2 linked regions of the Homo sapiens genome follow. The protein of the gene in region 1 interacts with the protein of each later gene in a pairwise test. Each region holds a gene or a part of one and is shown in the gene's direction. Other genes may lie near its edges. The genes, in order: MAPKAPK3 and THAP12.

Evidence for each region.
Region 2: the proteins of MAPKAPK3 (region 1) and THAP12 interact in a two-hybrid assay, tested with the Homo sapiens proteins (one study listed by BioGRID).

What each region holds. Positions count from the first base shown.
Region 1 is NC_000003.12:50,619,837-50,627,715, forward strand, and holds part of MAPKAPK3 (MAP kinase-activated protein kinase 3), read left to right. Parts: intron 1-7,879. UniProt on the Homo sapiens protein: Stress-activated serine/threonine-protein kinase involved in cytokines production, endocytosis, cell migration, chromatin remodeling and transcriptional regulation.
Region 2 is NC_000011.10:76,349,460-76,357,338, reverse strand, and holds the end of THAP12 (52 kDa repressor of the inhibitor of the protein kinase), read left to right. Parts: intron 1-1,684; coding exon 1,685-1,721; intron 1,722-4,544; coding exon 4,545-6,475; 3' UTR 6,476-7,383; downstream 7,384-7,879. UniProt on the Homo sapiens protein: Upstream regulator of interferon-induced serine/threonine protein kinase R (PKR). May block the PKR-inhibitory function of DNAJC3, resulting in restoration of kinase activity and suppression of cell growth.

The sequences.
Region 1 (7,879 bases):
AGAACTTCCACAGCACCTCATCAGTGCTCTCCTTGTTCTGGACTGGGAATTGGGTCAGGCCTGGAGTGGATTTCCCTCTGTACCCCTTTATGGGTGAGCATGGCTAAGGCTACTAGCTTGGGACCTTCAGGATCTGGCCCTAAATTGGCCCTCAAAGGGGACATGGATTAGATGTGGCTCCCACTCCAGGACCTTCCTGTTCTTAGTATCACTAGTGACCAAGCCTAGAAGTCCTTACCCAGCTAAGCAGGCATTTACTATCTCCCAATATTGGGCTAAGCACAACCTCTGGTACAGTTATTTTACCTGTCTTGTGAGTGGTAGCTGTGGCCACGAGGAGGAAGGTGACATCTCCCCACTTATAGCTTCTGCCCATTGCCCAGGAAGACCAGGACCTGGGGACCTCAGTACATGGGCAGGCCTGGGCCCAGGGAGCTTAGCCAGCTCATGATGGATCACAGTCCTCTCCTTGCATCTGCCTAGCCCTCTCCCCGCAGTTGCCCCAGCTCAGCCTAGGCAACAGTCGTGGGCTCTGTGTCTTTCTGCCTCCCTGGTGATGTACTCCAGGTTAACCAGGGTGGCCTGTCCTCATCTTATAACTTGACCTTGTTCAGGCCATCTCTGCCCATTTGTCTCATGCTCATCCTCTTGGCTCTGTTGCCCAAGATGGAAGATAGTGCTTAACAGGAAGCCTGAAACTCAGCAAACACTCATAAAACAGGAAGAGCTGTGGCCACTGTCCTTGTAACTGTTGCTATTCTGTGGAGGCCCTAGAGGAGCAGGTCCCTCCCTCCCAGGGAGCTGGGCCTCTTCCGCTTTCCCTTAGCCCCTGACCACCTGCTTGGTTCATCTTGGCCTCAGTCATACTCAGTGGCTCCCTCCCAAGGCTACCTTCTGCTGCCAGTGCAGCCATTCTACTCCATTGTACCCCAAGCCCTCATTGCTGTCCTCTTGGCAGGAACTGGAGGACTGCCTTTCTTGGAGAGGGTGTATGGGCCAGGCGGTCCTCCAGTGTCTGCTTCTCCTGCTGACCTCTTGCTTGTGCCCTCTCCCAGGCTTAACTAGTTAATTAGTACCTTCAGCTTTCCCTCTAACTGGGCACAGCCCTGCAGATTTGTCACACATCAGTTACCCCACCACATCCAAGATCCAGTCCTTCAAACTTTATCACATACATGAAAATTGGGACCCAAAGTGAGTCACACGGTTTGAAGTGGGGGGTGTAGCAGAGGCCCGAATTTTCTCCCCTCCTGACATCCTGCCCAGCCCTCTTGTGGTTTTTGGCCTCTTGGCAGGCAGAAGTGACCATGGCACTTAGTATCTCTAAATAAAAGCAATAGGCTGGGTGCGGTGGCTTGTGCCTGTAATCCCAGCACTTTGGGAGGCTGAGGCAGGAGGATCATTTGAGTCCAGGAGTTTAAGACCAGTCTTGGCAACATGGTAAGACCCTTATCTCTACACAAAATTTAAAAATTAGGGCTGGGTATGATGACTTATGCCTGTAATTCCAGCACTTTGGCTGAGGCGGGAGGATCACTTGAAGTCTGGAGCTCGAGACCAACCTGGCCAACCTGGCAAAACCTTGTCTCTACTAAAAATAAAAATACAAAAATTTGCTGGACACAGTGGCGGGCGCCTGTAATCCCAGCTACTGGGGAGACTGAGGCAGGAGAATCGCTTGAACCTGGGAGGCGGAGGTTGCAGTGAGCCGAGATCACGCCACTGCACTCCAGCCTGGGTGACAGAGTGAGGCTGTGTCTCAAAAAAAAAAAAAAAAAAAAAAAGTAGCCAGGTGTGGTGGCACACACCTGTAGTTCCAGCTACTCAAGAGGCTGAGGTGGAAAGATGATTGCTCGAGCCTAGGGGTTTGAGGCTGCAGTGAGCTGTGGTCATGCCACTGTACTCCAGCCTGGGTGACAGAGTGAGACCCATCTCAAAAATTGAAAGAAAGAAAAGCAATAAAAGGCCTTATGGAGACATAATGGTGGGGTCTTCTTTCCTGCCCCTGTGTTATGGACTGTGGGGCTGGGGGCTCTTCCCCTCTGACCCCTAAAGCATTTTGGAGGCTCTTCTAGGCTCCCAGTGCCCTCTTCTTCCCTTCTTTGTTAAGGAGAGTAGAGTGGTGGGGTGGTGGATCCACATGTCCAGGAGACCTCTGCAGAGTCCTCTGGGTCAAGTCTTTGTAGCAGCCATCTTCCTTCTGGTTCCCAGGATCTGGGGAGGTTGCTGGGGCTGCTGCCTCTGGGACAGTTTCCTTCCCCTTGATGCCAGTTGGCTTCCGTGAGCCAGGCTGCTCTGCATGTGGGATCTCAGTGATGCCTCAAAGCACAACACAGAAGAGGGCATATTTCTCCTGACAGATGGGAAACTAAGCTCTGGAGACCAGGAGGAGATCTCACAGGGATTTGAGATTACACAGGGATGCTGGGACTTGGCTGTGTATGTTCTGAGCCTCTAACTGTGGCATTCAAAGTCTCTGCAGTCCAGCCCACCTCCCTTTTCTACTTTAGGTGACATCTTTCCTTCTCCAGCACTGAAGAATTTCTTCTCATCTGTCAAGACTCAGCCCCAGTGCCACCTCTTCCAGGAAGCTGCCCAGAGTTCCTGGCTTTGGGGCAATGGAACCTTCTTTGACCCCTTTGATAATACTCCCCTTTGATTCAAAGCTCTTTTATAGCACCTAGGCCCAAGGCCTGGCATATATCAGAGATTCATGAATGCTTATGAAAATGACCAGGCTCTGGCCCCTCTGAGCTTTGGAAGGAGCATCAGGAGCTGGACTTTTTCCAGGTTGCACCTTCTCCACAGGAGAGGGGTTCTTTGATTACAGCTCAGAGATAAGCCACAGAGAAATGCTATTTCTACTCTCCTAAGATCTGGGAATTCACAATGGAATCTAACAGTTCCACTGCCTCAATAGACCTCATGGAGAATTCCTGGGAGAAAGGAAATGCCCATTCATGAGGCCATTTCTGCTCCCTGCCTGCTGTCCAGGCTGCACCTCTGAGTAGACAGAGGGGCTCTGTATAACCAGAATGCCAAAAGGAAGATAGAACATGATGGATGCAGAGACTGGGAAGCAATGGATCCAGAGCCCAGTACCCTGGATGCCTCACTCTCCCTGGGGGGATGGTGCCCACTGCTCCAAGGGTGAGGCTGGCCTGTTGGGGCTGGTACTGTTGAGCTGGATTTGAAGCCAGGTGAAGCTGCCAGGCAGGCCAGGCCCTTTTTCATTTGGCAGCCATCATCCCCTCACCTACCATCTCCAGACCGGTCAGATCAGCCTCTGCAGGGCCACTTGTTAGAGTCAACAAATCAGGAGGCACATGGAGGGACTATGCAGCCGGTACAATAGAGTCCCTGGAAATAGTTTCACTGCCCCCTGGGTTCTCCCAACGCTGCTCCTTACCTAGAAGGAAAGAATCTGAGGAGCCAGAGTGTTAACTGCCAGGGATGAGCAATTTGCTTTTTCATGAAGATCCTGGGGAGGGCATCAAACCCTACAAAATGCAAATAGTGGAATTTTAGGCAGAGGTTGATTGTTCTGAGATGGTTCGTACCGTGCCTGGCTGGCCTTGCTTACTGTTTTCGAAGCTGTGCTCCCAGCCTACTCTCAGGATCACCTCTGCTGGGGCTTCTAGGATCTTTTCCCATCCCATCTAGGAACTGATGCCAGCTCTCCAGGATTCAGGCCTTGGTGCTGTGGATTCTGATACCCCCATAAACGGCTAACAGTTTTTCAGAGCATTCTGCCCAGCGGGCCCTGTCCACAGTGCACAACAAGGCACAGAATGAGTTGTCTTACCTAACTCTTATCACTCCCATTATATGGATGAGGTTCAGAGGTCAGCAGCTTGCCCAAAGTGCTCAACTAGTGGGTAGCAGGGCTGAGCTGTGAGCCTAGGCAGTTTGATGCCAGAGTCCTAGCATCTAAGTCATCTCACTCCTCATGCAAGTCTGTGGGGACACGGGAGGGTCTCTGAGACTTGGTCCTTGGAAAGATGCTGGCATTGTCCTCTCTGGCTCCACTGGGAGCCCTGGCAGCCCCAGCTGGGCCCTGAGTGATGCTGCCAGTGTCTACCTACATCTGCTCAGTCCTCCTCACTGTATGGAACTCTGTGCCAGTGATTGGACAGGTGGCAGTCCCATGAGGCCAGCACACAAGGACCATGATGACTGTGAAGGCCACCTCAGAAAGGTCGTGTGCCTTTTCCCAGGCCTTGTGAGTCTCAGACAAGTGCAGCTGGGCAGAGCCCAGAGCACCACGGGCAGGAAATCAGACTGGTGAGTGGGCGAGTGGAAACTGTATCTGGGCTGGGCCAGCTAGGAGAGGCTTCCTGGAAGAGGTTGCCAGTTTAATTCAGACCTCTGGTTTGAGAAGGATGTGGATGACAGAGGAAGGCACAGGGTGTATGTGTGTGCCTGTGTGTGTGTGCACTCACGTGTGTGTGTGTGTGTGTGTATGTGTATGTGTGTGTGCATGTGTGTGACAATATGCCTGGTTTAGACATTCAGCACCTGCTGTGGAGTACCAGTTTCCCACTCGCAGACCTGTGTTCTGGCAGGATGTGGTTGACCTCAGCAGGGCCGGTGTCAAAGTCCTGACAAAGACTGGGAAGCTGAGGGAGGACCAGAGGAATCTGTGGAGGAAGAGGCGTTTGTGTAGGGCCTTGAAGGGTAGAGCACCATTGCTGAGGGTGCTGCAGGGACTCCTGGGTCACTTGGGCTGTTGTTCAGACTATATGGGAAGGACTCAGTTTTCATTACAACAGAGGTCTGTTGTATCTCTTCTGAGCTTCACACCTGGGGAAGTGGAGTTAGATCCCTCATTTTCCTCTGCTGGGGACATCATCATGGAAGATCTCTGGGTGGAGGCAGTAGTTGGAACATCTGGCTCTGTAAGCCCGCAACCTCCCTTGGCTCCAGGCTGCCATGTCTAATGGTGAAGGCCCATGGGCAAGAGCTGAGGACATCCCTAGGTGAGAGGCATTCCAAGCATACCTGTGCCATGAGAGTGTGCACAAAGCGCTTCCTGGAGAGCTGGCTCTGCTGCTCTCAGGACAGTGAGACCATGGCTCCTGTGAGCACTGGTGTTTTCCCTGGAGAACATTAGTTCTACTGCTCTCCCTCCATCTATTGGACATCTTGTGTGGTCCCAGATGAAAGGCCCCATCTTGGGGTTGAGAGAGGAACAGTGCTCTCGGCTTAAAATGCTTTCTGTGACATTCTCCCCAAGTGACTTTGGACTAAAGGCAGTTTCATAATCTTTTGCAAAACCATCATCTTTGTGGTGCAGTTGAACCCTGGGTTTGAATATGTGGTGGGGAGTAGGATCCAGTCTCGGTGACTGTTACTATCCCTGCATTCATGCTATGAGACAACATAGGCCGGCAGACACTCAGAAGGCAGGGCTCTCATTTGGGGTGGCCTGGGTGCATTTGCTGGTGAAACATTATTGGTTTTTATGAGGACTCACTTGGGTGCGCCCTGCACCTGGGGAACCCAGCCCCTTGAGGGACAGGAAAGAATGGCGTGAAGGGAGCTCTGGGTCCTGGGCTCCTCCCCACCCTCCTGCCCGTTTGGAACTAAGTGGATTAGGCCCTGTGCAATTGTGATTAAAATCCTGCTGTGTGGGAACCGTGGAGGTTTGGCTTAGAGCAGGAACACGAGGCTCCCGTTTGGGGAACAAGGAGCCTCAGGAGGCCCTTTCAGCACTAGACAGGCCAGAGATGCTGAAAAGATTGCTTTTGTTTTTGAGGCGGGTTTGGGATTAGGGTTGCCTTTTTCTTTAGACTAGGGCTTTGTCTTTGCTGCCTTCTCCTCATGGCACTAGCGATCTTTCTGTCCTCTGCCTCCTCGTCCCTCTCATTTCTCCTTTTCCACCTGTTTCTCCTGCTATCGCTCTGTCCCCGCTCTCCCGGGCCTTGCCAGTTTGCCTGTCTCGTGTGTTTCAGGCCTCATGGCCTCTTTTCTGCAGCCTGGCAGGCTGAGGGCAGGCGGAGGACAGAGCAGGGCCAGGTCAGGTGCTAAGGACTCATCCTGGTCAGCGGGCAGCTCACTCCCCCACCCCCACCCCAGGGGAGGGTGGGGGTGGGGAAGGAAGGAGGAGTGAGTGCTGTACCCATGCCACTCACAGTGTCCCCTCCTGCTGCCCGCCTTGACCAGGTGTCAGCAGCCTTGGCAGTCAGAACAGTGGACTCAGGAGTTCTTGGGCTGAGCTGTAACCTGAGGAGGTCCCCCGCCACCCCCCCATGGCTTGTGTGAAGTCAACTTCAGCTGCAGTCTCTGCTGTTGGGTCTCCTTTTACGGCCCAATGGTCTGAGACTTTTGCTTGGGACAATTGTGTGGGACTAGGCACAGTACGACCCCCAAGGGTTCCCTAGCCACAGTGAGGTATAGACAGGGCTGAGATCTGACCTGAGTCAGAGCCTTAGAGCCAGCCAGAGGAGCTGGTGGGAGTCTGGGAGGGCTCAAGGTATGAGGTGCAACCTACCGCCATTTTTACAGAGGGCAGAGCTGAGTGTGAGCTGCACCTGCACTAGCTGGTGTGAACACTCAAGACTCTCTAGCTGGCACCCTGCACCTGACCACCCTTGCCCTGCTAAGGCTCAGAGGCTACATTCAGGGGCCTGAGGGACCAGGACCTTGAGCTGCCACACTCATTTCCCCATTCTTAAGGGTTCAGCCTCCACAAGAGACCCATAGCTCATCCACAGATGCTCACCCAACATTAACAGCCCCCTTCTCAGGATGTGGTAGAAGGACTGGCAGGTGTTCTCCGTGCTTTCTGGCAGGCAGTGGCACAGGGGGCAGGGGGATGGCAATAAGGGCACCCACTTGCTGAGTGCCTCCTACATGTCAGGCACAAACACTGCAGAATCAGAATGGATTATCACGCCCATGCCATGGATGCAGAGACAGGTTCAGAAAGGCAGAGTAACTCACCCAGGGTCACGTAGTATGGACATGGCCCTGTGCTGGAACCCAGGCCTGGCTCTCAGCCATTCCTCTCTGCGTGTGTGCTCCTCTGGGGATCAGGAGCCACAGTCTGCTCATCAGCAAAATGAGAGCCTGGGCCGGGCGCAGTGGCTCATGCCTGTAATCCCAGCACTTTGGGAGGCTGACGCGGGTGGATCACCTGAAGTCAGGAGTTCGAGATCAGCGTGGTGAAACCCCGTCTCTACTAAAAATAGAAAAATTAGCTGGGTGAGGTGGCACATGCTTGTAATACCAGCTACTTGAGAGGCTGAGGCAGGAGAATCACTTGAACCCGGGAAATGGAGGTTGCAGTGAGCTGAGATTGCGCCATTGCACTCTAGCCTGGGAGTCAAGAGTAAAACTCCATCTCAAAAAAAAAAAAAAAAAAAAAATGAGGGCCTGGGTGCTCTGCTTGGCAAAGGCCTCCCTTTTGGCTGTGAAGACATGTTAGGTGGGCAATGATCATCGGCAGTGCCAGGGAAGCAGGCAGGTCGTGGGGGCCTGCCTTGCCCACTGCTGGTGCTGATCTTGCAAGTAGACAGACAGCATAGAGACTGGTCAGAGGGTGCCCCAGGATGCCTCTCCCACACCAGTCAGCAAATGGTGTTGTCAGGGGAACATTTGGCTATGGTGATGCCACCAGCAAGGGCTATATTCTGCCAGGGTCAGGAGCTCTGAGGGTTATGACTCAGGTTTGGAGACCCCTTCCGCTGTACTTCATGGACTAATTAAGTGCTTGAGTCAGGCTGAGCCAGTACCAGGGTGTGTCCTTACCCTAGGCAGGCCCAGGAGAGGGGGAGTGAGTCACTGCCGCCTAGTCTCGTGGCAGGAACAGGCAGTGTCCCTCAGAGCTGCCAGGCCACCACCCTGGTCCCCTAGAGGGCAGGGCCTCCCCCTCTTC
Region 2 (7,879 bases), on another chromosome or scaffold:
CACTTACATTACAGTCCTCCATATCAGCTTTCTTCTTGGTGTCCATGGAGGACTGATTCCAGGAGCTTCCCTCAGAGAGCAAAATCCACAGATACTTGATTCCCTTATATACAGTGGTGTAGTATTTGCATATAACTTACACACATCCTCCCGTGACTTTAAATCATTTATAATACCTAATACAATGTAGTGCTATGTAAATAGTTGTTCTGTTACATTGTTTAGAGAATAATGACAAGAACAAAAATCTGTGTGTTCAGTATAGACACAACCATCCTTTTCTTTTTTTTTTTTTTGAGACAGAGTCTCGCTCTTGTTGCCCAGGCTGGAGTGCAAGGGTGCGATCTCAGCTCACCGCAACCTCCGCCTCCCGGGTTCAAGCAATTCTCCTGCCTCAGCCCCCCGAGTAGCTGGGATCACAGGCATGTGCCACCACGCCCGGCTCTTTTTGTATTTTTAGTAGAGACGAGGGTTCTCCATGTTGGTCAGGCTGGTCTTGAACTCCCGACCTCAGGTGATCCTCCCGCCTCAGCTTCCCAAAGTGCTGGGATTACAGACGTGAGCCACCATGCCCGGCACAACCATCCATTTTCAAATAATACCTAGATTATTTATGATACTTAATACATTTATGTGTTTGTAACACCTACTACAATGTAAATGCTATGTAAATAGTTATGCTACGTTATGTAGGGGAAGAATGAGAAAAAAAGTCTGTACATGTTCAAGATAGATACAACCATCCATTTTTTCCCCAGCATTTTCAATGCATGGTTGGTTAAATCCATAGATATGAAGTGTAATATGTATCAGGATGAGGAGCTCAATCACTTGCTGTCCTGTAGCTATCATTTCCCTGTAGTCTGTCCCTCAGAGAGCCTCACATATCTCACAGCAGGCATACTCTTCCTGACCCACCATCCTTATAAACGTGCAGTCCGTAGGATAAGGAGGGGATGTCCAGGTTGACCAGCCTGCTGATGTTTCTTGTTATCAGCACCATGTCCAGTGCTGCCCAACAGGCATCCTGCTGTCTTCAGCTGTCACTGGCATTGCTGCTTTTCTGCCACAGAAAGTAACAGGTGGCTCATGATTTAAGCATTGTAGAGGGTTGGAAGGAAAGTAAAGGATGCAGCTGGAAAGTTCTTCCTTTGTCTAACCCTATTGGTGCCACTTGGCCTACTATGCTCTGTGTATGCTCTGTGTATCTCTTCCATGCTGGTACTTTCACCTTCTGCTTCTCAGGGATTTCTCATCACTTTTGTGTTGAGTCCTGAGATTCAGCAACCTCCTTCTTATGGGACATCTCCAGGGTTAAATTGGGAAGTAAGATGATTTGTGTCCTCTTGAATTTAACTCCAAGTGCCATGGTGTATTTTTGTGCCTTTCATTAGCCAGTAAACACTTATAACCCAAAGTTACGATGATTTAGGTAGAAAATAAGCAAAATGATGTATTCTTTTTTCCCTAAGACTTTGTTATAACCTTGGAGTCATTAACAGCTTATTCTGGTTTTCTCATTGTCTGTTTGTTTGAAGAATGTGTACTATATAAAGAATTTATGCTCTTGAAAGAATTAAATTGACTCAGAATAGGCATTTGTATTTGTGAGTCTAAGATGATACACTAGAGGTCAGTTTTTTAAAGATGATTTGTTTTTTTCTTTTTTTTTCTTGACATTTAGAGTGAAGATGAAATCAGGACACTGAAACAGAAAAAAAGTAAGTGATAGTGTTAATGACTCAACTTCTGAATGCCTTTTAAAAAGGCCTTGACCTGGTAAGGACAAATAAATATGTTCTGTGTTGAAAACCTACCTTGAGAATGAATGTAGGAGTGTGCTCAATTTTGTCCTGTGTTTTGGAATTATCTATGAGACTAAAGTCTAATTTTAGTTTGTCTTTATTGAGTGCTGCAATGCCACACACTATGCTATATGCAGGCCTCATGGAGGTGACGCCTCCTCTCTCAGTGTGGTAGGGGTGGCAGGCACACAGTGCTCCATTGTAGGGAAGGAAGGGCAACAGTAGAGGCATGCACTGAATCTCTTTTTCTGTCCACCCAGTTGTGGTATGTAATAAATTCTTTGTAAATGTTTAAGGACTAAATGCTGTGGGGGCACATAGTGCCATTGTGAGTAGTGGTCACAACAGCCTTTCTGGAGGTGCTGATGTCCGAATTATGTCACCAAAGGACGAGGGCTAGAAGCTGTTTTTCTTCTTGTCAGTTATTAGTTACTCCTCCTCCTCTGTTTCTTCCTCCTATTGCTGTTATTATTAACGTAGCATTTTATTGAGTGCTTACTGATGCCAAATCATTGTTCTAAGTGCTTTACTTGTATTAATTAATTTAATTCTCACAATAGCCGTGAGATAAGTACTGTTATTTCCCTCTTTATGGATGAGGAGATATGGACTTGGGCAAAGAGAGGGAAAGGTATTCTGTGCACGAAACAGGGTGCTGTTTTGGGGAACTACACTCATTTTAGTGTTGTTAAAGTTTGTGATAACCCATTATGGTTAGAAAATAGCCTAGAGAGGACCCCAGAGGCCAGAACTTGCAGACTTGTGGGCTATTAGCAATAGGGAACCACTGAGGGGTTTATAAGTAGGTGATAACAGGGACCTGATTTCCATGGTACATAGAGTACTCTGTTGGATTAGAAAAGGTAACACTGGAGGCATGGAGGCTAGTTAGACTGTCAACTGACCAAATAAAAGTTGAAAGGCCTTGAATTAAGGCAATGGTAGAGAGAGTAAAGGGAATAGATTCAAGGAACTTAAGAAATTTGTATACCTATGACACCTAAAAAGATGTCCAAAAGAAGAGGGACTTGACTTTTCAGTTTGAACTCTTTGCTCTTTAATGAACTTCTTTTTGAAAAAAATAAAAGCAAGAGAATTAGTACTTGTTAATTGGAAGTGGAGAAATAATGGAGGAGAGAGGGAGGGAGCCAGACAGGCAGGCGTCCAGGATAACCTCTTGCTTTCTGGCTTGGGAAGCCTCCCTAGTATAGAACCACTGCTGTGTCACATATAATGAATAGCAGTGTCATCTGATTTGAGGAGGGGTGAAGGAAGGATGCTCCCTGCATTTTTCTGAACCCTTATGAAGCTCTGAAGCATGGCTCACACAGGCTCCGGTCAGACTAGATTTCCCTTTGTACTTGGGCAGCCTGCTTCCCTCTTCTACCTTAGTGCTTGTGCTAGAATAATTCTCACCAACTGAAATGCCCTCCTTGTTCATGTCCCCCTTATTTATCCTTGTCATCAAATGCAACTTCTGAATTTTTGTTTCTCCCCACCGCCCTCCATAGTCTTTTTTCTTTTTGAGACGGAGTCTCACTCTGTTGCCCAGGCTGGAGTGCAGTGGCACGATCTCGGCTAACTATAACCTCTGCCTCCTGGGTTCAGGCAATTGTCCTGCCTCAGCCTCCCGAGTAGCTGGGACTACAGGCATGTGCCACCACGCCCAGCTAATTTTTGTATTTTTAGTAGAGATGGGGTTTCACCATATTGGCCAGGCTGGTCTCAAACTCCTGACCTCGTGATCCACCCACCTCAGCCTCCCAAAGTGCTGGGATTACAGGCGTAAGCCACTGCACCCCCGGCCCTAGTCTTATGTTCTAAGAACTAGGTTTTAACTGTGCCTCCTCAGATTTGGATTATTTTCCTGCAGACACCACTGACCTGTATGACTATGGGCAGGGCATTTAGCCTGTAGGGCCTCAGTTTTCCTATCCCCTGTGAAGAGATTAGGCTAAGATGTGTGATATTCTAATACTAGCCCTAAGAGTTACATTAATCTCCTTTATATTATACTGGTTTGTACAGCTGTCCCATCTCCCATATAAATGTGTGGCATAATGGTTTGATAAAAACAGCATCAGCATGGATCTTGGAGCCAGACGCACTTGGATTTCAACTTTACTTCCATTCTTCTAACTGTATTTGTGATCTTGGGCAAGTTACTTAGTGTCCTTGTTTGTCAAGTGGGGCCGATACCACCTGCCTGAACAGAGAGTAATGTGATGCATATAAAATACTAAGCACAGTACCTTAGTAATTAGTTCTGTCCCACTTTGTTTTTCTGAGGGCATGGACTGTCATTCATTACATATGTGGAAAGTCTTGTTAAGTGTATTTTAAAAATTAGGCCGGATGTGGTATCTCACACCTTTAATCCTTGTACTTTGGAGCTGAGGTGGGAGGATCACTTGAGGCCAGGAGTTCAAGACCAGCCTGGGCAACATAGTGAGACTCCCCGCTCTACTTCTTAAAAAAAAAAAATTATTCCTATCTTGTAACAGCATTTACATCTAGGATTAAAATATATCTCTTTACACTGTTTGTCTCTCCCACTAGGATGTGTCTTATCTTAGTGTCTTATTTTAATCTCTGTCCTAGTCTGTGGTCTAGTAAATACCCTATGAATATTGAATGAATGAGTTTGTGGATTTTAAATATTTAACCAAAGATGTAATATTTTTTGTTGTGTATGGTTTTTCATGAGCCTGTTTGTAAAATTAATTCTTTGTTTTCCAGTTGATGAAACTTCTGAGCAGGAACAAAAACATAAAGAAACCAACAATAGCAATGCTCAGAACCCCAGCGAAGAAGAGGGTGAAGGGCAAGATGAGGACATTTTACCTCTAACCCTTGAAGAGAAGGAAAACAAAGAATACCTAAAATCTCTATTTGAAATCTTGATTCTGATGGGAAAGCAAAACATACCTCTGGATGGACATGAGGCTGATGAAATCCCAGAAGGTCTCTTTACTCCAGATAACTTTCAGGCACTGCTGGAGTGTCGGATAAATTCTGGTGAAGAGGTTCTGAGAAAGCGGTTTGAGACAACAGCAGTTAACACGTTGTTTTGTTCAAAAACACAGCAGAGGCAGATGCTAGAGATCTGTGAGAGCTGTATTCGAGAAGAAACTCTCAGGGAAGTGAGAGACTCACACTTCTTTTCCATTATCACTGACGATGTAGTGGACATAGCAGGGGAAGAGCACCTACCTGTGTTGGTGAGGTTTGTTGATGAATCTCATAACCTAAGAGAGGAATTTATAGGCTTCCTGCCTTATGAAGCCGATGCAGAAATTTTGGCTGTGAAATTTCACACTATGATAACTGAGAAGTGGGGATTAAATATGGAGTATTGTCGTGGCCAGGCTTACATTGTCTCTAGTGGATTTTCTTCCAAAATGAAAGTTGTTGCTTCTAGACTTTTAGAGAAATATCCCCAAGCTATCTACACACTCTGCTCTTCCTGTGCCTTAAATATGTGGTTGGCAAAATCAGTACCTGTTATGGGAGTATCTGTTGCATTAGGAACAATTGAGGAAGTTTGTTCTTTTTTCCATCGATCACCACAACTGCTTTTAGAACTTGACAACGTAATTTCTGTTCTTTTTCAGAACAGTAAAGAAAGGGGTAAAGAACTGAAGGAAATCTGCCATTCTCAGTGGACAGGCAGGCATGATGCTTTTGAAATTTTAGTGGAACTCCTGCAAGCACTTGTTTTATGTTTAGATGGTATAAATAGTGACACAAATATTAGATGGAATAACTATATAGCTGGCCGAGCATTTGTACTCTGCAGTGCAGTGTCAGATTTTGATTTCATTGTTACTATTGTTGTTCTTAAAAATGTCCTATCTTTTACAAGAGCCTTTGGGAAAAACCTCCAGGGGCAAACCTCTGATGTCTTCTTTGCGGCCGGTAGCTTGACTGCAGTACTGCATTCACTCAACGAAGTGATGGAAAATATTGAAGTTTATCATGAATTTTGGTTTGAGGAAGCCACAAATTTGGCAACCAAACTTGATATTCAAATGAAACTCCCTGGGAAATTCCGCAGAGCTCACCAGGGTAACTTGGAATCTCAGCTAACCTCTGAGAGTTACTATAAAGAAACCCTAAGTGTCCCAACAGTGGAGCACATTATTCAGGAACTTAAAGATATATTCTCAGAACAGCACCTCAAAGCTCTTAAATGCTTATCTCTGGTACCCTCAGTCATGGGACAACTCAAATTCAATACGTCGGAGGAACACCATGCTGACATGTATAGAAGTGACTTACCCAATCCTGACACGCTGTCAGCTGAGCTTCATTGTTGGAGAATCAAATGGAAACACAGGGGGAAAGATATAGAGCTTCCGTCCACCATCTATGAAGCCCTCCACCTGCCTGACATCAAGTTTTTTCCTAATGTGTATGCATTGCTGAAGGTCCTGTGTATTCTTCCTGTGATGAAGGTTGAGAATGAGCGGTATGAAAATGGACGAAAGCGTCTTAAAGCATATTTGAGGAACACTTTGACAGACCAAAGGTCAAGTAACTTGGCTTTGCTTAACATAAATTTTGATATAAAACACGACCTGGATTTAATGGTGGACACATATATTAAACTCTATACAAGTAAGTCAGAGCTTCCTACAGATAATTCCGAAACTGTGGAAAATACCTAAGAGACTTTTAAAAATAGGCTTTCTTATATTTGATATTTGGAAGAAAAAGCCGTAAGGTGTATGTAGACCACTTAATCACTAAATATCTTTGCCTATAGGACTCCATTGAATACATTAGCCATTGATAATCTACCTGTTTAAATGGCCCCTGTTTGAACTCTCAAGCTTTGAAGACCTACCTGTTCTTCCAGAAGAGAACGTTGAAAGTGCCATGTTTCCTTTTGCGTGATCTCTGTTGATGGCACTCTGGAATTGTTTCAGTTAAGTCATTTTAGACATAGCATTTATTATCACTGTGGATCTCTACTTGTTGGGTGTTATGAATTCTTTGAAGAAATATATTTTGAAGAGGTGTGGGAGGAAGGAATACATTTTATAAAATGTTGTAGTGAAGCCCACAATTGACCTTTGACTAATAGGAGTTTTAAGTATGTTAAAAATCTATACTGGACAGTTACAAGAAATTACCGGAGAAAAGCTTGTGAGCTCACCAAACAAGGATTTCAGTGTAGATTTTGTCTTTCTTGAACTTAAAGAAACAAATGACAAAGTTTGAATGGAAAAGCCTGCTGTTGTTCCACATCTCGTTGCTGTTTACATTCCTTTGTGGAGCCTACATCTTCCTAAGCTTTTTAGCAGGTATATGTTGAACACTTCTGTTTCATGGTTGAGACAGAATCAGAGGCCATGGATACTGACAACTGATTTGTCTGTTTTTTTTCTCTGTCTTTTTCCATGACTCTTATATACTGCCTCATCTTGATTTATAAGCAAAACCTGGAAAACCTACAAAATAAGTGTTGTGGTTTATCTAGAAAAATATGGAAAATATTGCTGTTATTTTTGGTGAAGAAAATCAATTTTGTATAGTTTATTTCAATCTAAATAAAATGTGAATTTTGTTTAAAGCTTAGGCACATTATTTTTTGTGGGGTCAAAACATTCTTGTGTAAATTCTCTTAAACATTTGATAAACAGCTTCACAATTCAAGGTGAGTCTTTTGTATGTGGTTTACTACTTGGGTTACAGAAAAAAAACAATTAAGAAAGTGTTAAATGTAAGATTCACCCAACTAGGTTTTTTTTTTTTTTTAAATGTACTGTGTGGGCCCTGATGTAAATTGTCAGAGTTTGTCTTATTGTTGCTGGCTAAAATGAATGCAGAGGTGTTAATGAATTATTTTATGTTGGGAGTAAGTGTTACTTGAGCTTCAGAAACCAGAGTGGTGTGTATTTGCTGAACTGCTGAGAATGATAGCCCACAGTCCATTTCTCTGTCCTAGGAAAGCCCACAGATGTGTCAAATCAGGACACATTATGCATGCGGCTTATCAAAAAGATAACAAGAGTTTATCTTATAGCCAGGGCTCTAAGAGATGTCTCTGTCCTTGGCAGAAAGAACTG